Linked DNA regions of Homo sapiens: regions 1 and 2 are each linked to region 3. The links come from fine-mapping of genetic effects on gene expression. A gene starts in region 3. Each other region holds a variant in brackets. All regions are shown on one strand. Distances are from middle to middle. Region 1 has its middle 9.1 kb from the start of MS4A4E. Region 2 holds the start of OOSP3 (oocyte secreted protein family member 3). Region 3 holds the start of MS4A4A (membrane spanning 4-domains A4A).

The links.
Region 1: its variant is fine-mapped to the expression of MS4A4A in whole blood (TOPMed, PIP above 0.99).
Region 2: its variant is fine-mapped to the expression of MS4A4A in whole blood (INTERVAL, PIP 0.93).

What each region holds. Positions count from the first base shown.
Region 1 is chr11:60,246,704-60,257,860 of GRCh38, reverse strand. No RefSeq gene overlaps it. Among named protein-coding and RNA genes, the nearest start is that of MS4A4E, 9.1 kb to the right of the region's middle. The variant G/A (reference allele first, on the strand shown) is at 6,184.
Region 2 is chr11:59,874,714-59,885,870 of GRCh38, reverse strand. It overlaps OOSP3 (oocyte secreted protein family member 3), which reads right to left and starts at 7,089. Exons shown (of 5, transcript NM_001395255.1): 1 at 6,990-7,089; 2 at 5,432-5,610. The coding sequence starts at 7,062. RefSeq lists a silencer at 8,831-9,031. The variant T/G (reference allele first, on the strand shown) is at 5,979.
Region 3 is chr11:60,275,252-60,286,408 of GRCh38, reverse strand. It overlaps MS4A4A (membrane spanning 4-domains A4A), which reads right to left and starts at 5,743. Exons shown (of 7, transcript NM_148975.3): 1 at 5,693-5,743. The coding sequence starts at 5,733. RefSeq lists a silencer at 5,809-5,858.

The DNA of each region.
Region 1 (11,157 bases), 29 kb after region 3:
AGAAAGTGTGGACTTCAGTTAGCAATAATGTTCAATATTGGTTCATTAATGGTGCATCATACATTAGTAAGATGTTCATAATTGGAGAAACTGGGTGTGGGGCACAGGAGAACTCTCTGCTCCCTTCACAAGTCTTCTGTAAGTCTAAAACTTTTCTGATAGAAAAGTTTATTTAAGATATTTTAATTTTTCTTTTGTTTTTTCACTCTGTTCTGCTAAACCATGTTGTCCAACATAGTTCACTAAAATAAGACAAAACTTTCCAATTCTACATTATAAACAATATAATTATGCTACACAGTTTGGTGTAAATTCTCTTTCATTACCAGGTTCCCAGGAAGAAATAAAACAAAAAATTAGGCTGGACACGGTGACTCAGCCCTGTAATCCCAGCACTTTGGGAGGCCAAAGCAGGTAGCTCACCTGAGGTCAGAAGTTTGAGACCAGCCAGGCCAACATGGTGAAACCCAAGCTCTACTAAAAATATAAAAATTAACTGGGTGTGGTGATGTGCACCTGTACTCTCAGCTACTTTGGAGGCTGAGGCAGGAGAACTGCTTGAACCTGGGAGGTGGAAGTCACAGTGGGCCAAGATCAAGTCACTGCACTCCAACCTGGGCAACAGACAAGACTCTGTCTCAAAAATAAATAAAATAAAATAAAATAAAATAAAATAAAATAATTAAAAAAATAAAATAAACTCCTTTACCCTGGGAGTTAAAAAAACACTCCCAAAATCATCCTGCTTCATTTTTTGGTTTTGCTACTTTTCATTCAGTGATATCCCTCAAATTCTGCATGGGGTTAAGGATGGTTTTCTTTTTTAGCAGTATTCCAACTTTTCTTAGTACCAGCTTCACATTTGCAAAATGTAGATGATGACAGTAATATCAAGCTTCTTAAACAGTTAGCCCAGGGAAAATTATGTACCAGACCCAATACTTAATCTATACCCATGATATTATTTCCAAACACCAAAGCAATAACTCAGGAGTATCTGAAGGAAGGAGGGTAGACGGAGAAAAAGAAACCTTGATTTTCAATCTCAAGGATGACAATCAACTCCAGATTTTCAGAGTCAATGATTTGTGTTAAAATCAATTAACCCTGAATTCAGGCACCTTTTCATGCTGCCATCAGTGGAGGACGGAGAAATCAGTGTGTGCATATTATATTCTCTTTCAGAGCATGGCCTTTGAGATATTATTGTCAATGAAAAGAGTCAAACTCTAAAATATTTGAAGAGATTTATTCCGAACCAAATATGAGTGACCATGGCCTGTGACACAGCCATCAGGAGATCCTCGGAACATGTGCCCAAGGTGGTCAGGGTGCAGCTTGGTTTTATACATTCTAGGGAGTCACGGGACATCAATCAAATACATTTAAGAAAGATATTGCTTTTTTCCAGAAAGGTGAGACAACTCGAAGCAAGAGGCAGGTTGTGGGGGCTTCCAGGCCATAGGTAAATGTAAACATTTTCTGGTTGATAATTGGTTGAGTTTATTCAAAGATCTGGAATCAATAGAAAGGAATATCTGGTTTGTGATAAGTGGTTGTGGAGACCAAAGTTTTATGATAAAGATGAAGCCTCTAGGTAGCAGGCTTCAGAGGCAATAGGCTGTAAAATGTTTTTTTTTATCAGACCTAAAGTCTGTGTTGATGTTAATGCCAGAGAGGTATAAGGAAGCATGCTCGACCCCCACTTCCCATCAAGGCCTGAACCAGTCTTTTGGGTTAAATTTTAAAAGAGCCCTGGCTGAGGAGGAAGTCCATTCAGATGGTTGGGGCCTTAGAATTTTATTTTTGGTTTACATTATGGTACCTTTGCAAAGTTTACAAATTTGGTGATGGCCCCAGGTTCCAAAGTCACTCTTGAGGCACTTCTGTCCCATTGGCCTTATTCAAAACCTCCTGATATTCATTTCCTCTCTGGTCTCTGTGTTCCTGGCATCCTCATGTTGCATCAAGTGAGATCTGTCTCTAGTGACAAAAGTCCCTTGCCACAGTAGCTATGGCCACTGTTTCTTTCAATGGAATCATTTAGGCTTCTAAAGCAAACCTTACAGGCACAATTTTCCCCTTGTCCTCATTGTAATTTCAGCCAAAGAACAGCTCTGAGAGAAAGGGTGAACCAAAGCTGCTATGTAGGCCTAGGGAGCCGGTGGCCCTTGGAGGCTCAGGACAGCCAGTCCCTCCACCAATGTGCTCCACTCCAGAGTCTAGCATCTCTTCAGCCTTTGATCGTTCAGGCCTTGTGTGTGGTGCTTCATCCTAAAATACTGTGGTACCTCAAAGAAATGGAAATGTTTCTTTTATCCACAGCATTTTGTTTCTGCATGATTTATGTATGACCCTCGAATTCTGCATCCTTCTGAAGTGTTCCCACATTTTGGAATGCTTGACTGAGCTCCTAACAATTCATCTGCTCCTTAATTGGATCCAGTTCCATATCTGTTGATGTAACATTGTAAGGTTGATGACGTTAATTGATTATAGTATATTCTATTTTCTTTTCTCTTTCTTTTGTCTTTTTTTTTTCTTACTGGTCTGGACATTTTTGTCTTCCTAACATACCCCTTTCATTGAGTCTTCAAGACTCTTAGTGTTCCAAAAGCATCCATTGTTCAAACAAGGCTTGTCCACCTCATCTCCCAGTGTCCCATGATGCCCCTAAGTGACATACTACTGTGTTACCAATGTAGAACCAACACTGGACTTCATTGTTGACTTGAAACCACCCAATCAAGGCTACCACAGATGTGACACAGGATTTTTCTTGACCACTTTGCAAGCTGGAGACCTCTGGCTGGTGATGGCCCCTACCCAGGCCTTGCTCAGTTCTGGGCTCACTGTAGGAGATGCCCCATCTACTCAGCCTGCCAGACCATGCCTGGTTTGCACTCCAGCATGGATCCCATGTACACTACAACAGTGCCCTCATCCCCTAGTGGGAGGAGGTGTGTGAGTGAGTGAGTGAGGGATTGGGCCAGCCGTTCCAAGCACTGACACAGGAGCAGGCTTCATGCAGGGCTTGACCAGGCATGTCACAAGTGACTCCCACAGTGGACTCCAGCATCCAGATGAGGAGAACACGGTGGCACCCAGGCAGAAGTGTCCACAATGCTGAAACCCCAGAGGGGGTGTTGCAGCACACTAATAGCAATTTTAGTCGCACCATCTGCAGCTTGATGGATGGTAGTGTGTAAACAGCTCTGTCAGTCCCATAGCCTCACTCCAGCCTGCAGCTCCAGGGCTGGCTTGTTCCTGCCACTGCTTCTCATTGCATGGGGTGGCTCCCGCCACTGTCATAGGGCAGAGGGCCACAGTGTTACGGCCTTCTTTGTACCCACATTCGGTGGGTTCTGAGTTCTTGTCCCACGTCCCAGAAGAATGAGGTTATGCTGATAATTGAAAGGTGAGGAGAGTGGAGGAGGATTTTATTGAGAGACTGAACAGCTCTTGGCAGAGAGGGGATGCAAGGGTGGTCCCCCAACCAAAGTTGGGTGTTCTCTCTCACCCGGAGGTGGTCAGTTCCCAAGTATGGCTGAGTCTGGGGCTTTTATGGGCTCAGAATGGCAGAGTGAGTGCTGATTGGCTTGTGAGTATGCAAAAAAGGCTAAAACAAAGGCAACACTCAAAGGTGGGCATGACAACGTAAAAGACCAATTAGGGAAGGGTAGGTACATGTAAAACAGGTGAAAGGTAAGAATCATTCAGAGGAAAGCATGCCAAACAGGAAGATAGGTTCTCAATCTGGTCTGTGGATTTGTCAAGACTTGTAGCTTGGCTTTCAGGCTTTAAACTGTCTTTGATTTGAAGATGAGGTTCACCAGACACCTGCCCCTGTTTGCCTAGGATTTGTCTACCTCCTACTGCTATCAGATGCATCAATCTCCCCAAGTGCTTTTTTTAATATATTTTTCAAAGTTCCTAGTCTCTGAACATAGGTTTTTTGGGGAACTAGGGCCTATACACAATACCCCTTTCTTCTAGTCCTCTCTTTAGAGTGACTTGCAAAATAAGAAAAGAATTCCTTCAACTCAAGGCCAAATGAAATTCAATTAATGTGCCAAACCAGTCACTGGCAGAGCTGGGTCATGCCAGGCCTCCTCTGTAAGAAGAGGCACCTCCAAACCCTAGCAAGGGAAGGGAAGAGCAGGTGATGATGCTGTCTAGTAGGAAGACTGTCTCCCAAACAAATGAAGAAACACAGAGGGGCTGAGCCACACAAACCCAAGCCCTCCTTCCAAACACAGAGGGGCTGAACCACACAAGCCCAAGCCCTCCTTCCAAACTCTGCAACTTTGTGCAGCATTCCTCTTTCCCTGAAGAGAATCAGGTTAAGGAGAGGAAATAAACAGGTGTGTTTCTCTATAGGAAGTTCTGCTGGAAGGAAATGTGAGGCTAGAGACAGAGGAAGTTCCCTCCTAACTGTGAATACCTCTGGGGAAGGAGGCAGGGGGAGGAGGAGACAGGGAGAGCTTTGGGGCTACCTGCAGCATTTTATTTCTGTAAGGAGGAAAACGATGTATCTAAATACAGAAAATGATCATGTCACCTGAATCTCGGGGAAGATATGTAGATATCTGTTTTATCATTTTCTACTCTTTTATCTATGTTTATAAAGTTTCACGATTAGCATATAAACATTACAAGTTATTCTGAAACATTTATCATCTCACCTTTTTATAAAGCTGATCCTTTCTGAAGGAATACCAAAAAAAGAAAAAGAGGAAAATATAAGTGTCCTAGGAACCTCAAAGTTGTTTTATTTTTACTTAATGTACCATTTTTATACAGCTCAGCAATTTATAAAAGTCCCTGAGTGCCAAATATATATATAAATATTTTCCCCTTGTTTGACCTTCTGTCTTCCTCTTTTCTTTGTGTTTCACTGTAGCCCCTCAAACAATGAGTACTCTTTTCAGGACAAAATGTCATGCACAAGTCATAAAGTACAGAGGAACTACACCCTCCAGAACAGTGGTATGGGCAACTTTCTGCCTAATAGATACTTTATATTAACCAAGCAGTAGATTTCCTCTCAAACAAATGAAAAGCAACTGAAGAGAAACCTCATAAAAACACAGCACATTTTTGTTTCCCAACAGTTATAAACAACCCAGTTTTCCTTTCCCTTCTCACCCCATGTTCAGACACTATGAGTATTTCCCAAACTTTGGAAACAAAGACCTAAGTTTCAGTTTCCTGCAATGACATGTTGGTGACATTCTACTGCAGTCTTCAGGGCAACTGCTGATGGCAGAGTTGCAGCTGGCTTGGAAAATTTATTTTTATTTATAAGGGCAGAAGCAAAGGAAGCCCCCAGGTTCACTCACTGAAAATAACTATTGCCCATCTGCATTTGTTTTTGCTGCAGCCCCAAGAGCCACAGTAGAGAGGCTGCTGGCATGGGCAAGCCTGGTCTTGGAGCTTAGGGCCACTGACCTCGGCACTAACATGAGTCCCTTTCACAACAGATTGCCACTGCCCTTACGGATCTGAAACTCAGGGTCAGCATAGGCTCAGAGAGGTCACTGGCATCTAATCCAGCAGACCAGACAGATGTATGAGCACTTTCCCTCCAGAAACCTATTTACTTCTTCAAACACACAAACATTATATTGAGCAACTTTTATAACTTTTTGGTATCTCCTTCTCTGTTTGCAGAATGGAGATAGTTAAACATAATAATACTCCATGATCACAGGATGAGAAAATATATACATCCAGCACTTAGAACAAAGCCCGACACAGTGTAATGTAATTTCATCAGGACTTCTGAGCTTCCTTTTCTTCCTCTTACATCTCTTCCTGTCTCACTTTCTTAAATGATACAGCTTCTCTACACTTCCATATACTGGCACCCTCTTTATTTCCTCCCTCCAGCACTTGCACACAGAGACACCTAAAATCCTCAAGACCACTCCAGTGATTTTCGGGTACCACTCTTGCTAGACAACAGAAAAAAGTAATATGGAAGGAAATTTTGCATCTCAACTCTTTATAGCTTAGATAATGCTAAATGGTCCATATGCTTTCTGATAGTTGAGGGCACATGCATTTATACAATAACATGCACACACAAAGTACCGTCCCATGTGAGTGTTTAGGGGGAACGCTAGGCAAATCTGAGGCTCCAACCACTTTTTGTGTACTTTTCACAATTTCCCAGCAGAT[G/A]GCAGCAAAGTGTCCTGAGGACGGTTGGGTTTTTCTATGTAATTGAGCTCTGGAGGCAGTGTAAAGCTGGAGGCTAAATTGTCCCTCTAGATACACAACAGGACATAGGCAGGAGTAGCTTTCTGTTCAGTTTCCTCTGAGGCCCGAAGAGAACAGATGACACAGAGTCATGCCAAGGGCAGCCTCTGAAGCAGGTAATTATTCAGATAGAATTGAAATCAACTTTTTTTTTTTATGAGAGGAGTATTCTGTTATCAATATTGTGTAGAATTTCTTACAAGTAGGTGATAAAAAGCAGATGGCAGTTTGTTATTGTTGTAAAAAAAAGCCCAGGACCAGACGGATTCACAGCCAAATTCTACTAGAGGTACAAAGAGGAGCTGATACCATTCTTTCTGAAACTATTCCAAGCAAAAGAAAAAGAAGGACTCCTCTCTAACTCATTTTATGAGGCCAGCATCATCCTGATACCAAAATCTGGCAGAGACACACACACACACAAAGAAAATTTCAGGCCAATATTCCTGATGAACATCGATGCAAATATCCTCAATAAAATACTGGCAAACTGAATCCAGTAGTGAATCAAAAAGCTTATCTACCACGATCAAGGCGGCTTCATCCCTGGGATGTAAGGCTAGTTCGACATACGCAATTCAATAAATGTAATTCATCACGTAAACAGAACCAATGACAAAAACCACAGGAATATCTCAATAGATGCAGAAAAGGCCTTCAACAAAATTCAACAGCCCTTCATGCTAAAAACTCTCAATAAACTAGGTATTAATGAAATGTATCTCAAAATAATAAGAGCTATTTATGACAAACCCACAGCCAATATCATACTGAATGAGCAAAAGCTGGAAACATTCCCTTTGAAAACCAGCACAAGACAAGGAAGCCCTCTCTCACCACAGTTAGGCAAGAGAAAGAAATAAAGGGTATTCAAATGGGAAGAGAGGAAGTCAAATTATCTCTGTTTGTAGATGACATGATTGTATATTTAGAAAACCCCATTGTCTCAGCCCAAAATCTCCTTAAGCTGATAAGCAAATTCAGCAAAGTCTCAGGATACAAAATCGATGCGCAAAAATCACAAGAATTCCTACAGACCAATAACAGACAGAGAGCCAAATCACGATTGAACTCCCATTCATGATTGCTACAAAGAGAATAAAATACCTAGGAATATAACTTACAAGGGATGTAAAGGACCTCTTCAAGGAGAACTACAAACCACTGCTGAAGGAAATAAAAGAAGACACAAACAAATGGAAAAACATTTCATGCTCATGGATAGGAAGAATTAATGTCGTGAAAATGGCCATACTGCCCAAAGTAATTTATAGATTCAATACTATCCCCATCAAGTTACCAATGACTTTCTTCAAAGAATTAGAAAAAACTACCAAATTTCATATGGAACCCAAAAAGAGCCCATATAGCCAAGACAATCCTAAGCAAAAGGAACAAAGCTGGAGACATCACACTACCTGACTTCAAACTATACTACAAGGCTACAGTATGGTACCAAAACAGATATTAGACAATGGAACAGAACAGAGACCTCAGAAATAACACCACACGTCTACAACTATCTGATCTTTGACAAAACTGATAAAAACAACAATGTGGAAAGGATTCCCTATTTAATAAATGGTGTTGGGAAAACTGGCTAGCCGTATGCAGAAAACTGAAACTGGACCCCTTCCTTACACCTTATACAAAAATTAACTCAAGATAGATTAAAGACTTAAACGTAAGACCTAAAACCATAAAAACCCTAGAAGAAAACCTCGGTAATACCACTTAGGACATAGGCATGGTCAAAGACTTCATGACTAAAACACCAAAAGCAATGGCAACAAAAGCCAAAATTAACAAATTGGATCTAATTAAACTAAAGAGCTTCTGCACAGCAAAAGAAACTATCATCAGAGTGAACAGGCAACCTACAAATGGGAGAAAATTTTTGCAATCTATGCATATGACAAAGGGCTAATATCCGGAATCTACAAAGAACTTAAACAAATTTGCAAGAAAAAACAAACAACCCCAACAAAAAGTGGTCAAAGGATATGAACAGACACTTCTCAAAAGAAGACACATATATGGCCAACAAACATATGAAAAAAAGCTCCTCATCACTCATCATTAGAGAAATGCAAATCAAAACCACAATGAGATGCCATCTCATGCTAGTTAGAATGGTGATTATTAAAAAGTCAGGAAACAACAGATGCTGGAAAGGATGTGGAGAAATAGGAATGCCTTTACACTGTTGCTGGGAGTGTAAATTAGTTCAACCATTGTGGAAGACACTGTGGCAATTCCTCAAGGATCTAGAACCAGAAATAGCATTTGACCCAGCAATCCCGTTACTGGGTATATACCCAAAGGATTATAAATCATTCTACTATAAAAACACATGCACATGTATGTTTATTGCAGCACTGTTCACAATAGTGAAGACTTGGAACTAACCCAAATGCCTATCAATGATAGACTGGATAAAGAAAATGTGGCACATATACACCATGGAATACTATGCAGCCATAAAAAAGGACAAGTTCATGTCCTTTGCAGGGACATGGATGAAGCTGGAAACCATCATTCTCAGCAAACTAACACAGGAACAGAAAACCAAACACTGCATGTTCTCACTCAGAAGTGGGAGTTGAACAATGAGAACACATGGACACAGGGAGGGGAATATCACACAACAGGGGCCTGCTGGGGGGTCGGGGGCTAGGGGAGGGAAAATATCAGGAAAAATACCTAATGTAGATGACAGGCTGATAGGTGCAGCAAACCATCATGGCACGTGTATACCTATGTAACAAACCTGCACTTTCTGCACATGTATCCCAGAACTTAAAGTATAAAAAAATTAAGAAATTTTTAAATAAGAAACCTGAAATGTAGATATTCTATAGGAAAAGTGACATGGTTTCTTTAATAGATAAATGACATGAATAAAAAAGAGTGGGAAGGGGAAAATATAGATTGAAGGAGACTTAATTAACATATCAACAAAATGCAATGTCTGGCCTTTGGATGGATGGGGCTGGGGTGTTCTTGACTTAAGAAAATGAACAAATATGTATGAGAAAATAATAAAATTTGAATATGAACTCTATATTCGATGATACTAAGGAATTATTGATAATGCTGTAAAATGTGATAATGATATTAGAAAATGTTATGGAATAAGTGTCATCTGTTAATGATCCATACCAAGGTATAAACTAGTGAGGTGATATTAAATGTGAGATTTACTTTAAAATACTCTTACAAATATGTGCAGGGTGGAGAGAGATGAGAAAACATTGGCAAACTATCGATAATTGTTGAAGCAGACTGGTGGATGTATGGTAATTCATTATACTAACCTCCCTACTTTTGTGTGTGTTTTAAATTTTCCAGAAGAAAAAGTAAAAGACAGAAAGTGGTGATGGTTTCATGAGTGTATATTTATCTACCAAATGATCAAGTTGTATACATTAAATATATACAGCTTTTTGTATGCCAATTATACCTCAATAAAGTGGATTTTTAAGACAGATAAGAAATAAAAATAAGATAGATAAAAACTACACGTGATTGTGAAATTAATGAAATGAGTGTTTTTAGCTCCATCAGTTCAGTTTGGTTCTTTCTTAAAATAGCAATTTCATGTTTTATCTACTGTACTATTTTATTGTATTCCTTAGATTCATTGGATTAGGTGTAGACTTTCTGCTGTTGATGATCTTTGTTCCTATCCATGTTCTGAATTCTACGTCTGACATTTCAGCCTTTCAGCCTGGTTAAAAACCATTGCCGGAGAACTAGCGGAGTAATTTGGAGATAAGAAGAGACTCTAGCTTTTTGAGTTGCCAGTTCTTGCACAGCTCTCAGTCATCTGTTTGTGCTGATGTTCCTTCAATCTTTGAAGCTGCTATCTTTTAGATGGGCTTTTTTTTTTCTTTTATTGCCTTTGATGCCCTTGGGGGTTTGATTGTGGTATAAGTTGGGTTTAGTTGATTGGCTTTGATTCTAGTCAGTAGACTGGCTTTGATCCTAGTCAGTTCCTGGGTATTGGATGAGGCTTCCCTGATTACTGTCTCTCTGCTCACATTTATTATGTTGGGCATTCTGGTCCACAGAACTCCCTTAGGCAGGGGCCACAGTTGGCGGACAAGTAGTATCCTTACAGCTTAGCGCTAATCTGCTGTCTGAATGCTTTCCAGGGTAACACAGTGTTGTCCCTACCTATGGAGTTTAGGTAGAAGCAGGACCACTGGGCTATAAGCTGGGGTGTCTGGTTACAAAAGGCAAAGATTGGTGGAGTTGCCCACCCTATCATCTGGGTGTTTCTGGGGCAAGAGAATGCTGCACTTCTTGGTAATTTCAGGCAGAAAGAAGTAGCACTGCTGAGCTGGAAGCTCCAGCAGATGTGGCTCACCTGTCTACCAGTGGTAGGAGTGGGTAGGGCTGTCCTCTCTGGCATCTGGATGCTTCCCAGGGAAACAGGAGGCTGCACCTGCTGGCTCAGTTCACAGAGAAGTAGGACCACTAGGCCAGAACTCTAGCAGGCATTGCCCACCAGGCTACCAGTGGCAGGGTTGGGTTGCATCACCTGCCCTGCTGTCAGGGTGTTTTCTGATTACAGGAGGCTGTGCCCTCTGGCACACCTAAAGACTGCAATTTCTGGCTGAGTTCACATATAAGAAGGACTACTGGTCTGGAAGCTCTAGCAAGCATTGCCTGCCCGGCTACCAGTGTCGGGGGGTGGGTGCATTGCTTGTCCTTCTTGTCTGGGTGCTTTCTGGGACAAGAGTAGGCTATGGCTACTGGCCAAGTCCAGGCAGAAGTGGAAATGCTGGGTAGGAAGGTGGCACAAGGAATATTATGTGGAGATTATTTCAGAACCCTACAACAGTCCCTAATCAAGAGAGGCAAGAGCTAAAGGAATCAGGAACCCTAGGA
Region 2 (11,157 bases), 400 kb after region 3:
TTAAAAAAAGAAATAGAAGATGGCACATTATTCAACTCATTCTATGATGTATTGCCCTGATATTAAAACCAAAGACATCACAAAAAGAAACTATAGATCAATGTACCTTATGAATGTACGTAAAAAAACTTCCAACCCAAATGCCCATCAATGATAGATTGGATAAAGAAGATGTGGTACATATGCACCATGGAATAGTATGCAGCCATAAAAAGGAAGAAGATCATGTACTCTGCTGGGACATGGATGGAGTTGGAAGCCATTATCCTCCACAAACTACTGCAGGAACAGAAAATCAAATACTGCATGTTTTCACTTATAAGTGGGAGCTGAATGATGAGAACACATGGACACATGGGGGACAACAACACACACTGGGGACTGTCAGGGGGATGGGGAGGGAGAATAGCTAATGCATGCTGGGCTTCATACCTAGGTGATGGGATGATCTGTGTAGCAAACCACCATGGCACATGTTTACCTATGTAACAAACCTGCACATCCTGCACATGTACCACTGAACTTAAAATTAAAGTTGAAGAAAAAAGAGAAGAAATCATTGTCTAACCACGCGCCCCCCCAACAAAAAATAAAAACTTCAGCATACCATATCCAGCAACATCTAAAAAGGACTAAGCAGTATGACTAAATGGGATTTATCCCAGGAAAAGGATATGTTGGCTCCACATACAAAAATCAATGTAATACACCATATTAATAGAAGAAAGGGCAAAACCCATATGATCATCTCAATAGTTTCAGGGGAAAAAACTATAAAATTAAATACCATTTATGATAAAAACTCTCCACAACCAAAGATAAAAGGGCACGTCCTCAACCTGATTAAGAGCACCTGTGAAAATCCCACAGCCAACATCATATTTAACAATGAAAGACTGAAAGCTTTTCCCTTATAATCAGAAATAATACAAAGATGTTCACTCTCACAACTTGTATCCAATATTGTACTGGAGGTTCTAGCTAGGAAAATTAGGCAAGAAGATAAAACAAAAATTATCCAGATTGGAAAGGAAAATTAAAACTATCTCTATTTAAAGATGACATGAGGCCTGGCACAGTGGCTCACGCCTGTAACCCCATCACTTCAGGAGGCCAAGGTGGGCAGATCACTTGAGGTCAGGAGTTCGAGACCAGCCTGCCCAACATGATGAAATCTGGTATCTACTAAAAATAAAAAAATAAATAGCTGGACACGGTGGCACACACCTGTAGTCCCAGCTACTTGGGAGCCTTGAGGCAGCAGAATTGCTTGAACCTGGGAGGTGGAGGTTGCAGTGAGCTGAGTTCATGCCACTGCACTCCAGCCTGGGCAACAGATTAAGACTGCATAGAGAGAGAGAGAGAGAGAGAGAGAGAGAGAGAGAGAGAGAGAGACAGACAGACAGACAGACAGACAGACAAACAGACATGATCTTGTATATAGAAAATCATAAGAGATCCACCCAAAAAAAAAAACTATTACAACTAATAAGCATGCTCACTAATGTTGTAGGAGACAAGATCAATCGACAGAAATCAGTTCTATTTCTGTACACTAGCAATGAACAATTTGGAAATAAAATTAATAAAACAGTTTGAAGTTCAGTTGGATCCTGGCAGCAGCTGCAGCAGTTCTCTTCTGTGTCTCTCTTTGCCACCTCCTTTTCACTTCCGGAACATGTGTGCACATATATTTGTTTAAATAACTGTTATTAATTCTTTTGCACATATAACCAGGAATTAAATTGCTGTCTGTTATTTAAGCCACGGCAAGATTCTTCCCTTCTTCCCAATAGTAAACCAGGAATATTAGAAATGTTTTATATTTGAAAAAGACCTGTATATGAATCCAGAATCCTTAACCTTGGTTTTCCTAACCTTTCTAGAAAACCCATTATCTGTGAAATATTTTGTCATTAATCACATTAATGTTTTCATTTAGTGCATAACAATTAGTACTCAATTTAAAATTATCTTCCTTTAAAAGTAGCTAAGTTTGCAGTGTCCAGCAAGAGACTGACAGTCATGGCTGTATGACCTTTTGTAGGTTACTTAATCTTTTTGAACTTCATTATCCTCTTCTGTACAATGGGGATAATAGGAGGACCTACCTCACAGGATTATTGTGCAGTCCCCTGTCTTTCTTAAGACAGAAAAAGTTTCGCATTGAAGCTAACCCATCATTTAACCACTCTTCTAAGCACCATATATTTTGTTTCACAAATTTGTTATTCATTCAGAAAAATAATTTGAAAAGTGAGTAAATTCTACACAATTATAGTTCTCAAATGACTTGTACATTATGGTGCCTGTTCACATTTTACTACATGTAATCTTCTAAGGTTTTTAGATTTCTTTGGAGGTTGGAGGTGGCAATATCGCTAAGGCAGCTAACTTTTCAACATTCTTGGATCAAGCTGATATTGTGGTGAAAAGAATTCCTGCATTTCTCAAAGAACTAGGGCTGAAGCAAAAATCAGTTCCAATGAACAGGTGTCCAAATGGGCTGTTTAATAAAATCTAATCATTTTAAACAACTCTGGCGTTTCAGTGTTTTGTTTTGATCCTGTGAGTTTTAAAACTAGTATTTTAGGTGAGTGGTAAAGAAAGAAACCAAACAATAGAATAAAGAGTTGTTCCCAGGAAAGAATTGAAGTTGGGACAAATAAATTATTAACTTTGATTGCTAGACCTTTCATTGAAGACATTCAGCCAAAGACTCACCATCTTTAGAAAAATAAAAGACTATGCAACTCCAAAAAATTAAATATAGAGTTACCATTTGAGCTAGAAATTTCAGTCCTAGGTATTTACCCAACACAATTGAAAACAAATGTTTACACATAAACATGTACACAAAGGTACAGCAGTAACAAAAAATGAAAACAATTATTCAGCCATAAAAAAGAATGCAGTATTGAGACATGCTATGATATAGATAAACTTTGAAAACATGCAAGCAAAAGTCACAAAAGGCCACATATTGTATGATTGAATTTATATGACATATCCAGAGTATGCAAATCTATAGAAAGAGAAATTAGACTTGTGGTTGCCTATAACTAGGGGAGAAGAGGCAGTGAAGTGACCGCTGATAGGTATGGGTGCATTTTTGAGAAGTGATTAAAATATCCTGGAATTAGAGAGCAGTGATAGTTGTACAACTTTGTCAATGTACTAAAAACCACTGTATTGTACACTTAAATGTTTAATTATTCTTTCCTAATCCATGTCTGCTACTTAAACTGATTGCTACAGTCCTTCATTTTGTTTTTAATACTGTTGAAATTCTAGATCCTGCCCTTTAAATGGAAAATCTTTATAATAAATTATAAACCTAAGAAAGAAATGAAGCCACCAAGGTAGAGATTCTTTGACTCATAAAACTCAAAGAATCTGATTTGATAAGGTATTAAATCAAAATACTCATGTGAATATGTGAATATTAACATTGCTTTTGTATACTATGGAAATTTGAAAACATTTTAAACATTAACCAAATTGTTCCATATACAATCTGTCCTTGAAAGGTAATTTCGAAGGGGTCTTATAAGACCCTGAAAACTTTAGAAATGGTTTTCATGCCACAGGGGGGAAAAAAAAAAATCTTCAAAAGAAACCTACAGCTCTGATTGGTTATTCTACGTCATAGTTTGTGCCTCCTGTAATAACATTGTGGCTGATGTCTCTGCCTCTCTTAGTGTCTCATATTTAATTGTATAAACTTTGAAAAGTTGGCTTATTAATTCTTTGGCCTTTGTAATGATTTCCCTATATCCATAATAAGTCATACTTTGAAATATGGGAAAAACCACAAAGGCCAAAGAAATTAAAAATCTGCAAACTTTCATGAAGTAAGTTTTGTAGATGTGAAACAGCATATTGAAGGAAATCAGAATTGTTTGTATAGGACACACATACCTCTAAATGGAGAGTGTGGTTATTCACCACTTAATTTTCCTATAAATACACTACCTTTTATTTATTTATTTATTTTTTTGAGACGGAGTCTTGCTCTGTTGCCCAGACTGGAGTGCAGTAGCATGATCTCAGCTCACTGCAACCTCTGCCTCCCAGGTTCAAGCAATTCTCCCTGTCTCAGCCTCCTGAGTTACTGAGATTACAGGTGGCCACTAGGCTAATTTTTGTATGTTTAGTAGAGACAGGGTTTTGCCATGTTGGCCAGGCTGGTCTCAAACTCTTGACCTCAGGTGATCTGCCTGCCTCGGCCTCCCAAAATATACTATTTTTGTCATATTGTAAAACCACTGCAAACTGAATGCAGAGTCCACTTTTCTTCCTCCACCAAAGGTTAATGTTGAATAGTCTGTATGTTGCTGTCAGAAAACTCTCGCTCTCCTCCTCCCTAGTTCTATTGCCTTAATCACCTGGATTCAACTTCATCCCAGTGATAAAACCAGAGAAAAACAAAAGATACAGGAGATTTTATCATTAACTTCTATTGAGCATTCAAGGATCAAAAAATTCCAATCTTTTTTTTTTTTTTTGAGATAGTCTCGCTCTGTCACCCAGGCTGGGGTGCAGTGGCATGATCTTGGCTCACTGCAACCTCCACCTCTCGGGTTCAAGCAATTCTCCTGCCTCAGCCTCCTGAGCAGCTGGGACTGGACAGGCACATGCCACCATGCCTGGCTAATTTTTTATATATTTTTTAGTAGAGACAGCATTTCACCATGTTAGCCAGGATGGTCTCGATCTCCTGACCTCATGACGTGTCCGCCTTGGCCTCCCAAACTGCTGGGATTATAGGGTAAGCCACCATGCCTGGCCAAAACTTCCAATCTTAACTAAACTGTCTCAAAACTTGACAAGGAGCATATGAGAAAGAATGAATTATAGACCAATCTCATTCATGGACATAGATGTCAAAATTAGAAACAACATACGAGCAAATCCACCTCCACCTCAAACCTCCTCAGATGTTTTTTTCCTCTGACTTCCCCTAGTGAATTCTACCTCTGGTATCATCCATTTTTTCATCGCCTGCTTCTTCAAAGGAAGAATGTAAATCCCAATTTACCAACATGCAAGTTTCAGTTACATACCTGTTGAACAGATGCATGATCTATGGTAAATTGTTACTCATTTTAGCCTCAGTTACTATGAAAACTAGGAACAATGCCTGCTTTAAGTGCTTCTAGACTTTAGGGGATGTAAGGACTAAAAAAGACTTAAGAGTGCTTGGATAGTTATACTACTATATATGTTGAAGTATTCTCCTCCACAATGGGCTATGTGCCATGATATTTTATGGCCAAGTCAAGGTACCCACTGGTCTTCCTATCCTGAAAGTACCAAATTAAAGTAATTCAAGAGCCATAAAAAAATCTCGCACTGACAGTACACACAGTACTACTGCAAGGTACAACCTAGGGGTTAGTTTATTATTTGAACTGCTTGCAGCTCTTACCTCTTTCTGAATCCCACACTGAGTGGCAGGGTAATTAAACTCATATCCCTTCGCAGTTACATTGGTTACAGGACAGCCAGTTCCCAGAGATGCTTCATCAGAATGCAAAATATGATCTTGACCAAGTAAAGTTGGTTCAGCCACAACCCAGAACATAGAGGAAGTACATCCTACTGACACTGTTGAAAAAAAATTTTTTTAAACATTTAGATAGCAATTTTATGCTAAACGACACCCAGAGAAAGTCTGAACATAGCATATTTAAACATATGTATATACACCACTGTAAAACAGCCTTGAGAGATACAATATGATCACTCAGATGAAATGGTAAAATTGTAAATGAAGGATCAGTCCCATTCAAGCCTGTCTGGAAACAACCTCTGTCTCCTTCCCTGCGAGTACTGTTTCCTTAAAAGTTCAACATTAAGCTAAATATGGGATGCTGTCTCTGCTTCTTTTGCTGTATGGGGCTGCCCATGGATTGGGGGAGCCTCAAGCTGGTGTGCTGGCCTTGAGTTTACATAATTAGGCCAGTGTAAATGAC[T/G]GATAGGGCACTGAAGCTGCAGCTTCTATGGCCTCTGACTCTCATCCCTGGCAGACATCTACATCCCGTGTGGGTGAAGAGACAAGGGAAACTGTACCCTGGGGCATCTGCTAGACCTGCCAATAAGATGAAGATCTGCACCTGCTCTGTCTCCACCCTGTATCCTTCTATGATGCAAAAGGAAGATAGTCTCAGATTAAAACCTTGTGTGGTAAGTCTGTCAACTCAAAACATTCACAGCTGTGGTGTTACAACAGCATTTCTTCATTTTGTGTCTATTAATTCTACTACCAGAAGCATATCCAAAAAACATTTTTAGACAAAAACATATCCTATAGATAAAGCAATTCATCACTGTATTTTCATGGTTTAAAAAAAAAACTAGAAATAACAAAATTATATGTATTTTATATGTATTATTTCTACCCAATAACTTTGTACATAAATAAAAATATATAGTTTAGATGAGAAAAGATTACTGTAAAATATGGAAAAAGTAAGTGGAATGCAAATAAAACTATTAATATTAATGATAACAACTTTATGACTTAGGGAGAATAAGAAGTGAAAGGAGAAAAAATGAAGAACTTTATTTTCTCAACCTGATTTATGATCACTAACTCATGACCACTTAGGAGGCAACAGGGCAGGACAGGAGGCAGGTGGCAGGATTATGAGTGGGAGATCAGGGTGGGAGGTGGAAGAGCAAGTTGAAACCTTAAATAGAGAAATATTTTTCCACAGGTAGGGTGAATAGGGTGACAAAACACAATAGAAAACACCTAAATCCAGAGGAAGAATAAAACTAGCTCTTTCTCAAGTATTAGGATAAACTAGATAAATCACTTGCTTTGCGGGGTGGTAGAGAGCAAACAAGAGAAAGCAATACCACTACAGAAGTCAGAAAACTATACTGGAAAGTCACTTCCACTCAAAACAGCAAACAGTAAAAGGCCCACAACCGCTAAGAAACTATGACTTCAAACAACAAAATATAAAGGTCACTTGTACCTGACTCTTGCTCAGAAAGAGTCAAAATCGTGCACAAAAGGAAAGAGGACTGTAACCTCACAAAATCTTTCATGACGTCAGCTGCCAACTAATGACCCCTGAAAAATTCAGGAAATTGGAAGCGGCTGCCCTGCTTTTGATACTTTTATACCCGCTGCCACACCCAGCTGACTACATTTACAAATCACTTTTTGCCAATGGCTTATATTTTCCAGGAATGTATTGTTTTTGCCAATTTAAGTTGCTTAATGTTTGGAAAATACAGAAAGTATAAAGAACAAAATTAAAACTCTTTATAAAAACCACTATTTTTATATTCACAGAAATAATTTTTTCTCCCTGCTGAAACTTGACATTCTCTTGATCACTCCAGAACCAAAATCAGGCTGCAAATAAAGTCCCATTGACAAATCTTTGAGAACTGTGACTTCTTCAGGCCCTCCAAAGTTCCTAGAACAGAATGTTCACAGAAGGTCAATGCATGTTTATTGAATTGTTGGGAAATGATTTTCAAACTTTAGCAGCATCAAAAACACCTGCAGCACTTGTTAATACACCGATAGCTGAACTGTGTTCAGGAAATTCTTATTCAGGGCTGGGAATGGAAGGGCCAAGAATTTACATTGCTGAAAGTTTCCAGGTGCTGCTGATGCTGCTGACCCCAGGATCATACTTTGAGATTGTGCCTCAGGCATGTTCACTTTAGAAAGTATTTATTTCAATGGCTCCCAAATTTTAGATTAATTTTCAAAATTATCTGGAACACCATTTAAAAATATGTGTATTCTAACCCCAATCTAGTCCATTGAGATCTATTGTAGCTGGAAATGTAAGAATGCATATGAGTCACTGCAGGGTCTTGTCAAACATGCAAATTCTCACAGTCTAACTCAGTGGGGCAAGACCCAGGAATCTGCATTTTTAAACAACTGCCCCCAGGTGACTCCTGGAGGCTCACACTTTGAGAAACTCTAAGCAGAAGTCCTCAGGGCTGCTGATGAAGGAGGAGGGAGGCAGATCTCCAATTCTTTTTCAGTTATTTTCATTTTATTTATATCTGTTTTATATTAGATCCTTTTTAAAACATCAACATTATAAATTCTCAGCATCCTTTGACCTGAAATGTAACATCATAATTTTAAATAATAAACCAAATGTGCCTGGGGCTACTCATTAAATGACATCTTTGATGGATCAATAAGGAATAAAACAATGAATCCAAATCCTATTTCTCATCATATAATCTCCTGAGACTTCCAACATCTATAATATAAACTTTGCAAAATATGTATGTTATCTGTGCCACTAGTCATTATCTTTTGAGAATCTGGAATGACCTAAAAGAAAACAGAGACCAGTCCAACTAGCATGACATTGGGCCAAGTTCCAGAATCAGTAGTCTAAACAAAGCCTTCCCATAAGAGATATAAAAAATAAAATAAAAATTCCTTCACCCAATGAAACATGTCACATCTACCTCCCATATTAACTTCTTCTACACACCCACATATTATAACAGAAAAAGAGATGGAATAATTCAGTTTGCTACCATACCACTTTGAATCACCCTCAGATCTGGGAAGGAAGAGCCTCTGCTCAGGGACCCATGCATTAGAGGGTATCGCTCTGAACTTCTCCATCATGTTCTTCTCTGGGCACAAGAAATGTGTTGAAACAAAGGAACATGCCATCCAATTCCCAAGCCTTCATAATTTCCTGCCCAAATGGCCTTGAACTTAACATCCAAGGGCTGCTTGAGCCCCTTCCCTGAGTCAGTTCTCTCAGGTGTATATAGCCCTGGGCCTAATGGTGGCCAAGAGGCAGTTGTCTGCTGGAAATATGGACGGAGCTTGGACACAACACCTGGAGTGTCCACACACGTGCACTTGAGGCCCCCTACAATGCAGATCAGAGTGGGGTTAGCAAGAGGAAGGATTTGGCCATGGGCCATGGGCAGGGGATGGTAGTACAGTGGAGATAGATGGTGGCTCTCACCACATTGCAGTGTTCCAATGTGAAATTCTAGAGATTCTAGACTCTGAGAATTGTAGACTAAAGTCTATCTTTCTATTGCATTATGAAAGTCAGTTTGTCAAAATAGGAGACATAACATATCTTAACAGTTTCTTCATTTAAAGCTTTTATGTAAATATACATGATATGTGCCTCCACTTGTACCCTTGCTCCAGTCCCCATGCATGTGAGGTGGGAGCAGACTTGGGGCCGTTTGTCCTCCACACAAAGTATTAGTTTTGTGCAAAAGTAATCTCGGTTTTTGCCATTACTTTTAATTTGCAATGACTTTTAATGGCAAAAATCGCGATCAGTTTTGCACTACCCTAATAACTTGTCTTGGGAGAGATCTACTGATTTCCTTGGGAACCCTCTTAGGGACTTGTTTTGCTTTGCCAATAAGCCTGAAAGGACCTGAGTTTCACTAAACATCTTTGTGCTTAGGTCACTCATCAATGTTCGCCTTCAGTAAGTCAAGCAAATAATCAGAATTACGTAACTCTTACTTAGCATGGAGAGAAGTGAAACGAAAGATATTGATTATTTCAAAGTGGATCTGCTTGATGAGATAAAGGAATTCTGGGTAAATGTCAACAACATACTTAATGCTTGGGTCACTTTGACTTTAACCCCAGATGTTTACATCCCCACGGCACTCCTGATTTCCATGGAAGGCCCCTCTATCATTTACTTTTTTCCTAGTTTGCTCCTGTAAAACCTTCTAATATTTATCCAATGAGATTATCTACCGGTATGTGTTATTAATTTGTCATTTGGCTTAAGGATCTGAGGTTCCTTTCAGCAAACATTTTGATAACCTCTTACATCATAGGCATTTTTTATGGTAGCGTGGAGGACACAATAGTGAACGAGAAAGGTGTATCGCTGCCTTTGAGGAGTTCACAGTCAGGCAGGGAAACAAACATTAAATACACACAGTTAAGAAATAATTCTGCAAAAATTAATTGCTATTTTCATAAGTGCTGCAAACGAAAGTACAGAATGTCAAGAAAGTGGCTAACAAATGGCCAGAAAGTACTTGTTCTTAGAGATCACATTTCAAGTCTGGAGTTTTATTTGAAATGCAGTGGAAGGCTTCAAGGATTTAACCAGGAATGAGGATTTTAAAATATTTTTTAAAAACATCAGCACAATAACAACATATCTCTGTTGCAAAAGAAAATTCAAAACTTCCATTGTCTTGGATTAAAAGTCTTAAGACAGTGTATTTCAAACTGTGTTCCTCAAGAATTCCTTCTCTAAATGTGGTCCATATATGACTCAAGTTGGAGAAGTGCTGCTGTAGGAGCTGGGGGGAGAATGGCTTGGAGAGGGCTACAAGTGAATAGTAACACACAAATGTGGAAGCTATTTCGGAGAGGGCAAGAAACTGGAAATGCTGATCAGATTATTGGCAGGGAAGGCAGGGTGAGACAGACTGGTCCCAGAAGGTAGAATGTGTCACTCTGGTTGGTTGGTTAAGTGATCAAAGGAGACAGAAGTATCAGGCATAACAACCAGACTTTGGGCAGGTATAACTGAGTTGATGGTTATTAGTGAGACAATAATAGCCATCAATTACGTACTGCTTATTACGCACCAGGTACTACTCTAAGCACCCTCCATATATTAACTCATTGACTCCTCATGAAAACCTAGGAGATAAGAACTATTTTCTACATTTTGGAGACCTAGAGAAATTAAAGATTTATTGAAGGTCACAGAGCTATTAAAATGGCAAAGATGGCTATACTGATAAAGAAGTAAGTTTGCAATGGAAAACTAAGAATTCAATTTTGGATATGCTGGTTTTTAAATTGCAATAAGACATCCAAGTAGAATTACAGAGAAGGCATTTGGCTATAAGTTGAGACTCAAGAGAATCTAACATAAAAGTGAAAACTGGGAAAATATTAGTCTATTTGAAGGTTTGAATGTGGGTGAGAACACCTAGAGAGAGTGTGTAGCATGAGAAATAATATAGGTACAAAGCTCTGAGGTCATACAACATTTAAAGTTTCAAAAAAGATTGGCAATGAGTACAAAGAAGGAGTCAAAAAAAAACTGGGAGAAAAATTACGGGGCTGAGAGTTGATGATATTGCAACAGAAAACGTGGGGAAAATGTATCTAGAATTTGAAGGAAGAATCAACTA
Region 3 (11,157 bases):
TTTCATGGACATTTATCACTTCCCCAATCAATACTTTTATAATTTCCTATGCCTGTCTTTACTTTAATTTCTTAATCCCGTCATCTTCGTAAGCTGAAGATGTACGTTGCCTCACGACCCTGTGATGCTTGCGTTAACTGCACAAATTGTAAAACATGTGTGTTTGAACAATATGAAATCTGGGCACCCTGAAAAAGAACAGGATAACAGCGATGTTCAGGAAACAAGGGAGATAACCATAAGGTCTGACTGCCTGCGGGGCCGGGCAGAACAAAGTCATATTTTTCTTATTGCAGAAAACAAGTAGGAGAAATATCACTGAATTCTTTTCCCAGTAAGGAATAACCCTGGGAAGAGAATGCATTCCCAGGGGGTGCCTATGGACAGCCGCTCTGGGGGTGTCTGCCTTATGCGATTGAAGATAAGGGATGAAATACACCCTGGTCTCCTGCAGCACCCTCAGGCTTGCTAGGATTAGGAAATTCCAGCCTGGTGAATTGTAGTCAGACTGGTTCTCTGCTCTTGAACCCTGTTTCCTGTTAAGATGTTTATCAATGACAATGTGTGCACAGCAGGACATGGAACCTCATTAGTAATTCTAATTTCACCCTGGCCTTGTGACCTTGCTCTGCCCTTCTGCCCTTGTGATCTTTTATTGCCATTTGAAGCATGTGATCTCTGTGACCCACTCCCTATTTGTACATTCCTCGTCTTTTGAAATCCCTAATAAAAACTTGCTGGTTTTGCAGCTCGGGGGCATCACGGTGCCTGCTGATATGTGATGTCACCCCCGGAGGCCTAGCTGTAAAATTTCTCTCTTTTGTACTCATTCTCTTTATTTCTCAGACTGGCTGACACTTAGGGAAAATAGAAAAGAACCTATGTTGAAATATTGGGGACTGGTTCCTCCAATAAACTACCAGACTTTTTTGAGACAGGGTCTCATTCTGTTGCCCAGGCTGGAGTACACTGGCACTATCGTGACTCACTGCAGCCTCGACCTCAGCCACCCAAGTAGCTGGGATTACAGGCCTGTGCCACCACACCCAGCTAATTTTTGTATTTTTTGTAGAGATGGGGTTTCTCTATGTTACCCAAGCTGGTCTCAAACTCCAGGGCTCAAGTGATCTTCCCGTCTCAGCATCCAGTAGTGCTGGGATTACAAGAGTGAGCCACCATGCCCAAACTTAAACTTACAGATTTTTAACACAGACAATGTAGTTAATTGCTGGGCCTTCCACCAAGAAAGGACACTTGCAGTCCCATAGCCCTCTTAGGGTTTCTGTTACGTTGAGTTCTTGCCACTCTTGATTAGAGGCTGCTTGTAGGGTTCTGAAATAATTTCCACATACTTTTCCTGTAACACCTTACTTTTTTGAAAGAGAAATTTTGAGGAAGGCCGAATATCTTCTATTTAGGTCTTCTAATGTTTGAAATAAAAATTACCTCTTCTCCCTTCTGGGGCAGTTGGTAAATTGTTAATTTATGGGCTTTATTAGAATGACTTTAAATTAAGCCCAGAGGGGGACAGTTCTCTGATGTTTAACAAAATTTGCGAGTACAAATTAAATTTAAGACAAAAAATAAGGCCTGCTATTTTATTTTACCCCTTTGATCCATATCTAAATTTTGTGTTCTGCTCAGAGGATGCTAAAGTGTCGATATAGGTCTGAATGTACCTACTCCATAGCATGTGAATGTAACCCACCTCATAAACTCCATTATCATTAGAACAGAGACTGCAAGAGGAAGAGGAGAGCCTCTAGGCCCGCCTCTGCATAGTCTTGTATCTAACTTACTGAGAGCAAAAAAGGAGGACAATCCTGACTCTTCTGACCAATCTTTGAGACAAACTGCAAAAGAGAGGAAGAGTCAACCTCTGACCACATGGTACCATGAAAAACATGCTCTCACCAATTATATAGACCCCTCTTATCTGCTTTTCTATTTTCCCCAAGACCGGAGAAGGTTGGAGCAGGGTCATGACAGGAGTAAAGTCCCTGTCTAGCATGTCCTTGAGTGGCAGGAAGTGTTAAAGGAAGTTTATGTTTTATACTTCAAGCCAGAAATGAGTAAGTGATAGTAGGAATACCAGTAATAATAGTCAATATGTATTTAGCATTTATTAAGTGACACGCACTGGTTTAAATGTTTTATATGTGTTATTTCATCATTAAATTCCCCTGAGAGATATATTCTATTATTCACAGGACAGAATTATAGAAACACAAGATTAAGTAACTTGAGTAAACAGTGGCAGGGCCAAAATTTAAATCCAGGTGATGTAATTCCAGAACTCCTTTGCTTAAGGGGATCCACTAAACTAGTCTGGTGAATGGAAGATCTCTTGTTTGCACAAAAACTTGTACAATTAATTTTCTTAGCAGCATTATCTATAATAGCTAAAAGGTAGAAACCACCCAATTTGGAATAAGTTAGATAACAAGACTACGTAGAGGTGGGCCAAGAGGCCCTTGTCTTCCTCTTGCAGTCTCTGTTCCAATGATAATGGAATTTGTGAGGTGGTTTGCATTTATATGCGATGGAGTAGGTATATTCAGACCTATATATACACTTTAGCACTTCCTAGACAGAACACAAAATTTAGATTTGGAGCATATGGCTAAAATAAAATAGGTCTTATTTTTGGTCTTACATTTAATCCACATCCTCAAATTTTGTTACACTTAAGGGAATTGTCCTTCTCTGGGCTTAATTTAAAGTCATTCTAATAAAGCCCATAAATTGACAATTTACCTACTTGTCCCAGAAGGGAGAAGAGGTTATTTTTATTTCAAACCTTAGAAGACCTAAATAGAAGACATCCAGTCTTCCTCAAAATTTCCCTTTCAAAAAAGTAAGGTGGCGCAAATCTTCCTATGTGGAGATTATTTCAGAGCCCTGTAAGTAGTTGCTAATCAAGAGTGGCAAGAGCTAAAGGGAACAGGAACCCTAAGAGGGCTATGAAATTACAAGTGTCCTTTCTTGGTGGAAGGTCCAGCAATTAACTACACTATCCATGTTAAAAATCTGGAAGTTTAAAGCTGGGCATTTTGACTCAATCCTGTAATCCCAGCAGTATAGGAGGCCAAGGTGGGAGGACCGCTGGAGCCCAGGAGTTTGAGATCAGACTGGGGAACATGGTGAAACCCCATCTCTACACAAAATGCAAAAATTAGCTGGGTGTGGTGGTGGGCGCCTGTAATCCCAGCTACTCAGGAGGCTGAGGCCCAGGCTGCAGTAAGCCACAATGGCATCAGGGTACTCCAGCCTGGGCAACACAGTGAGACCCTGTCTCAAAAATATCTGATAGTTTGTCATTGGTTCCTTCCATTGCCTACCCTCTATGCTCAATCAATCTCATTCTAATCCTACACAACCATTTTTCAACTCTGTGTATTTCTCCCATCTTCTCAAGGCAAGCCATTATTCTATTTTTATCAGAAGTATTCATTATAGCCTCTGAATGTTCCCTGTGTCCATTTGTGGCTTTGGATATTCAATCCACCACTGATGTTGTAGCCAGAATGATCAAATACAAAAACAATTGAGTCACCATCCCCTTTAAAAGCCTTCTTTTATATTTCACCACCCTTAGCATAAAGTTAAAATTTTTAATGTTGATAACAAAAGCTCGGCTACTTCAGCACAAATCTATTGTAGTCTTACCTCGAATCTCTCTCCTTTTAATTTTTAAAGCTCCAAGTATATTTGACTTATTTAAGTTGTTCCAAAGACGTAATTTCATTCCTATATTGAGACATCTGCATATATTGAAACCATTTGCAGGAATGTTCCACCCCTCTTGTGACCACCTTGTAAGAACAAAAACAAACCCACCACATCATCTAATCTTCTCACACATGAACAGCATTTTATAGTCTCTATCTTCTCTCAGACACTATTCCCCCACTTCCCCACCATTGCCCACATGTGGATTAGTCAGCCTATGACGGTAAATAAGGGTTTAAGAAATGTGTTATGTTCCTTCTACATTGCAAAAGTCAAAGTTATTTGGAAAGTGACTAAAGATGATTCTTCTTAGTCCATCTAAATGTGTACTTTATTCTTCTTTAATGTAAAAGAACCTCTGCCTCAATCTCTCAGGCACACCTTCAGACTGAGAATTTAGGACATGTTGGGTCTGTCTTATCAAACGCACTGGTGGTTCTCTCTCTGTGTTTAGTGCCTCTCTGGTAAGACTGTAAGCTTCCTCGAGGGCAGAGCAATTATATCAAAATAAAGCTTGTAACTGACTCCTATGCTTTCCCATAATTCTTTGGTAACATAGGTCAGGTTCTGGTCATTCAAGGCTGGTGCTTTGTCATTCTAAGAAACTCTGGCCATAAATTCATATAACTGCCTCCTCTTTTTCCACCACAGAAATCCTTGTGTTAATTATCTACGGCACATGAAGTCCCCAAGAACAAAAACGTGTTTACCATCCAGGGCTTGACTTCTCTATATTCAATTTTTTTTTTAACTGCTGAGAATATTGGATGCATATGAGGGACATTTCTTCCAGGTTGGAGAAGAATTTAAACCTTGGTTTTGCCACATCACCTATATGCATCAGGCTCTTAAGAAATACAATGTCTTTCCCCCACACCCCTGATAAAGAGGTGGGGAAACCCAGACCACCCTTCCCTCTTCTATTGGCCCCAGTCACCTTGTGGATCAGCAGCACCACCAGTCTCTTATTTCCTCATTTTTATGTCACCATCCTCCTCATGGGTCACAATTGCAAGGAGAGAGCATGAGGAGAGTGGTACAAACAGCCATCCGTTTTTCTTGGCAAAGTTGTCAAATAGACTAGAAACCCAAAATGAGGCCTGAATCTGGATGGTTTTAGAAGGATGATGGGGATGCAGAAGTGGTGGCATGGGAAGGGAAAAGGGGGAAAGGCCCGGGCTAGGAACCAAGAATTCTGTTTTTGTTTTTGTTTTTGTTTTTCTCCCAGCCCTTTTGTTAACTTGTGTGATTCTGGGTACATTATTTCCCTTTTATTGGCTTCTTTTACTTCATCTGGGGAAAGATTACAATGGCCACGACCACTTACAAGCTTCTTTCTTATCCTAAGAATGCTAAAAGTCTACAAGGTGTTTTTCATTAGCAGATTTTATCATGAGCAGCCTCAGTTTACTGCCTGGGTGCCCCATGAATAGTGCCAAAGACCACTGGAGAACTAGGTCAGGCCACAGCCCATCTAAATGTACAAGGCTGGGGACCCTGCCTGTGCCCTACTCCATGTACACCAAATTCTGCATGTGATACATCTGTTCTTAAATCCTGAGTTATAAAAATAACCAGTCAGACACAGAGAATAAAGACCACAGAAGAAGGGCATTAACAGTAGATGAGGTAACTAGTCAAAGGTTTAAAATGTTGCTTTCAGTGTTTTGATATCCTGAAGACTCAGGGGACAAAAGTAACTAAACAACCTTATCCAGCCTCCAATGTCAGCCTTTAGGAGGCTTTTCTAACTCCTATCGACTGTAGCAAAAACTGTTCCTCATCCCCCCACCGAATGCACATTTAAAGGTGCACTCAACCCACCCCAACCCTGAATACCAGCTTGGGTCATGGGAAGTGGCCTCATTATTCTTCTCATTCCCCTCCCAGAAATTCTTAACCCAGGAAGTGAAACAAGCCATCAGCCCGAAAGCCTAGGAAGGCAAGTCCCTGGACCTACCTTTCTTCAGGCCTGCAATGTCTGCTGTAGGTCTGATGCATGCAGGGCTCTGGGCAAGTTCCTCAAAGTTCTTTGGTCTAGACCCAATCAACTTCCCCCACTCCACACCTCACTCAGTTTAAATCTGCATTCCTCTTCTAGCAGATGTTTGGAACCTTAAAGGCTGTGCTGAGAATTTCTGAGACGCACAGCTAGTTCCTCTTTTATATCGGAAGCATTAACTGATTTTGTGTTCCCAATATGGGTGTGGATGTCTATTTTGAAATTTGCTGAAAAAGCAGGGGCTGCCTGATACAGTCTTTCCTATGAAAATAATACTGCTAATTACTGTGGATATCAGTGGTAGAGGATTTACTGTATGCCAGACTCTCTTCAAAAGTCGTTATATAAACAAGTAAATGGTATTTTGTAAATACCCCCTTTCACAGGGTCACACATTTCCACAGTACTCTTGTCTTCCTGGAGCACTACTATTACTATTTTATTAGGTTGGTGCAAAAGTAATTGCAGTTTTTGCCATTATTTTATGGCCAAAATCACAATTAACTTTTGCACCAACCTTAATATACACAACTTAAATGTTTTATTTACATGAAATTCCACCTTTAGAGATTCATCAGGAGTGGCCATAAAATGGCAACAAGTTGGTTGTATGGCAATAAAACAACACCTTTCTAAGTGAAGGAAGCAGCTGGTATCATAGAACGAGCTGGTCTTTGACTAAGATCAAACCAATGGCAAACATTTCTTGCATGGCCCTGTTAATCTCCTGAACCTAAGATTCATTTGTAAAATAAAATAATGCCTACTTTACATGGAGGAGGAAAGCAAAGTGGTGTGCAGTTTTCATTCATTCAGCATTTTCTTTAGAAAAACTACTATAAGCCAAGCAGTGTGCCGTGTGCTTCTGAAAAAATGGTAAAAAATAATTTTCACTCAAAGAGTTTATAGACTACTTGGAAAAACAGACCAGTAAATAAATCACTACAATCCATTACTATCAGTTATCTGCAAGGTAAAGTGGCAATACAGATGAGTAAATACATCATTACAACCCATTGTAATCAGTGATCTGCAAGGTAAAGTAGGATATCCTAAGAGAGCTCATAGGAGGATCAATGAACCCAACATTGGGTAGGCAGAGGAGACTTCCTAGATAAGGGGACATCTAATTGGAGACCTGATGAATGAGCAAAAGACACACAAATGGAAAGGGAATGAAGGAAGGTAATATTATTATTTCTATTTTTCAGAAGAAGAAACTGAAACTCAGAGATATTCGTATAGCTGGTATAGATGAGATTGAAATCCAGTTTTACTTAATTCCAAAAACTATGTGGTCTATAATCTGAAATTACGATTCTCAAAATTAAAATAGATTATATTTCAGAAATATTGTCCTGGTTTCAGACAACAGGAATAAATAATAATAAAATCAGAGAATTAGGCTCAAGGTAGAGGCAGTTCTCTAGGGAAGGGATGATGGTTACTGAACTACCTGTGATGCTAGTGAAGTTGGAGAGAATGAATGGATTTGAAAGATGCTTAGGAACAAGAAATGACAGTACTTGTTGGTATAATGGATGTGTAAATCAGGAGAAAAAACAGGAAAGGATGACACTCAGATTCTGGGTTAGGAAACTGAATGAGTGATAGAGCCATTCAGTAAGGCAATAGACATGGACCAGGACAGAACTGCAGGAACAAATAGTAAAATTTTGAACGTATTTGATCAGAGTTGTGTAGGGACCTTCAAATAAAGTTGACAAGAAGTGGATAACTGGCAGGAGCTAGGGAATGAGAACATGGCTATAGAGGTAAACCCAACAGCTCTTCGCCCAGAGGGATGAGGTCACCCAGGCTTGTGGGTGGAGGCAGAAAACGTCAAACCCTTTTTCTAGAGGATAGAGACAGTATAATCAGAAATAAGATTTCCCAGAGGATTATGAAAAAGAGGGTAAGGAAGATAGCAGGCAAACTCGGAAAATGTGGCATTGCAGAAGACAAGGGTACAGAGTTTCATGACTTCCTAAGAGAGGTTGAAATTCTGGACTAAGGACAGGCATCAGTCTCTCCTCCCACTCCATATGGTATGAAATGAGACAGTATCAGGTTATTATTAGCAGATAACAATTTCAAGAGAACAATAACATGAAATTTGACAGAGAAATATATATATTCTATATATATAGAATATATATCCTATTATATATAATAGAATATCTATATATTATATATAATTATATATCATATACAGATATATTATATATAATAGATATAATATATAATATATATTATATAATAGAATATATATTATATTATAATAGAATATATTATATATATAATAGAATGTATCTCTATATAATATGTTATATTATATATTAACAGAGACTGGGTTTCACCATTTTGGCCAGGCTGTTCTCGAACTCCAGATCTCAAGTAATATACCCTCCTCAGCCTCCCAAAGTGCTGGGATTACAGGCGTGAGCCACTGCACCCGGCCTTGAGCTGGATTTTGAATCCTATGCCCTATGTGAGCTGGAGCAAGTTGCTTAGGCTTTCTGCACCTCAGTTTACTCATCTGTAAAATATAGATAGTAATATGTCATAGCGTTGTTGAAAGGGTTATATTAGGTAATATAAATAAATTACTTATCATTTTTTGAGCACAGAAATATTTCAGTAGGAAGAAATCATTCAATTATTATTAAATACTTCAGAGAGACAAGCTAACAACAGTAAAATGTTCACTGGATTTAGCCTGAAAGAAATCATTAGTGCCCCCTTCCCCAGTTCCCAATCAATTTTCTTTCTCCAGAAGCAAGTATTTAAATTTTAATTGTTTCTTTTTGTGTTGACTCCATATTTCTAAGTGAATGATTTTAAATACTGTTCTAATTTTTGGTTTTATATATTATGCACTAACCTCCTACTACTGAAGACAATAGACTAACCCCTATATCCTTCATTTTTACCCTGGACACACCTTCCCACCATAACACTTCCTTTTCCCTCATTCTCCCATATAGTTTTATCACGATTTTTTAGTTAACTCAATTTATAGTATTTAAATCATTAATGGCTAATTCATTATGAGTGTTATGATTACGCTTCCTTTTGACCATTTTTCTCTCTGAAGTTAGTAACTGCCTCATGTTTCATATGCTGTTTTCTACATACCTGAAAATAAGTTGTTTTAAATACTCCACCATAAATGTAAATCTCAGTGTCTATAGACCCACAGGTAATTGATCTGTTTCATTAGTATTTTTCTGTATACACTCTCCCTTCCTGGCGCCTTATATTCTCCTATTCCAGTTAGGACTGGTTATACTCTAGGCCTTCAGGGATCTTAATTCACTATTCTCAGGGAATTCACTTACTTAAGTATTCACTATTGATATGGTTTGGCAGTGTCCCCACCAAATTTCATCTTGAATTGTAGCTACCATCATTCCCACATGTTGTGGGAGGGAACCACTGGGAGATAATTGAATCATGGGGGCGTGTTCCCCCATACTTTTCTCGTGGTAATGAATAAGTCTCACCAGATCTGATGATTTTATAAGTGGTTTTCCCTTTTGCTTGGCTCTCAATCTCTCTTGTCTGCCGCCATGTAAGATGTGCATTTTGCCTTCCACCATGATTCTGAGGCCTCCCCAACCATGTGGAACTGTGAGTCCATTAAACCTCTTTTTCTTTGTAAATTACCCAGTCTTGGTTATGTCTTTTTTAGCAATGTGAGAACATACTAATACAACTACCTTCTCAGACAATTAGCTGTGTCCCCAGACATATTCAACTGAAAGCACTTATAATTCTTGAGACTTACTGGGGTTCTACAAAGAGAATCAAATTTTTTCTAAGCTTCCAATTCCGTCAGTCAGGTTTTCACTTTCCGGAGGCTGCTAAGTCATTTATTGCTTGTCTAGCTGGTTTCTAACATTTAAAAAAATGATCCAATTTCTCTCATATTATTTTTGAATTTTTGGATTTATGACTTTCTCCCAGACCCTTTATAGTCATTTAGTTGGGTTTCATGAGGAAATAGATGTGTTTAATCCACCAAGATTAGCCATTATTTGAAAATTATATTTTTATAAGTGTTTTTCTTACCAGTTCATTGTATCTCTGAGGACAGATAATGTATCTTATTTATCTTTTTGATTTCAACATTTCTCAATGTCTGACACCAGGTAGGAACATTTCTGTTGAATGCTATTGGGTGGGTAAAATAGAAACAATGCAGAGAATGGATGTAGGTGGCACATCAGTCAGCAGTGAACTGAGATACAGTATCAGAGAAAATTATATTACAATCTCAGCTAAAGAGATTGGTAAAAGCCTTAGAGATATCTGGAATAAAAGATTAGAACAGAGGGAAAATGTGAAAACAAATATATTAGGAAGTAGGAGTCATGTAAAGTTGAGGTGATAGATCTAAGCACTGTAATTCCTCATTTTGAATCTAGAAAAAATATTATTTTGTATCCTTTTAATAAAAATATTTTTCCAGTGCCTATATAATTCTAAATTAAAAGCACAAAATGTTTTTTTTTCCCATATGGGTTTCCTTTGTGCTTAAGAAATGGTTCTTCAAATAGTACATATGTAGCAAAGAAAGGTATTATTCTTAAGAAAACACTCTTAAAATTCTTAACACTTAACCTCAGATACTGGTGCCTATGTATATTAATATGCAAAATAAATGCCAGTGTCCCCTAAGGACAGGGTCTGTTTAATGACAATAGCCCAACTCGTCTATGCTGACACCAAAGTAGTGTATACAAATCACATTCTTCTCTTCTTTATCATTACAAGATCTCTTAGCTCTGACCAATTTACTGCTCTGCAACCATTTTTGCCAACTAATGAAATTAAGTTTTAATCTGAAACTCTTAGAAAATGACTTACAGCCAATCAAGTCAGTCAAATTGAACAAATATATAAGTTATCAAAGGAAACAAAAGCTTTCTTTTTTTTATTTCATCACATGCCTTCTAAAGGCCCACAATTATAGAGATGTCTAATCTCACTTCCCTTGAACATTGAGTTTCACAGAGGATAATAATCACCAACTATCTCTGGCAAGTAATTTCCCAACATTTTCATTTCATCAAGTGTCCTAAAGTCATGTTTCTAATACACCGGATTTTATCTTGTGAATTTGAGGCAGTTAAAATAAATTCCACAAAAAGCTAAAAAAATGCCAGTAGTTATTCAAAACCAGCTTTAGTGTTTTGATATATTTTTTACAGTCTCTCCTTTGAATTATGAACACAGATTCCTTAGCTATTCCAGGCTACCTGTACTATATTCAGAAATCCAAGCAAATACTATTCTCCAGCAGTCACTCATTATAATTTGCTTTAATGAAACAGTGGATGAATTAAAACTATGTTATAAACATTTTGATAGGCCAACGGACTTTGATTCAACAAGATTATGGCTCTTGTTATGGTTTC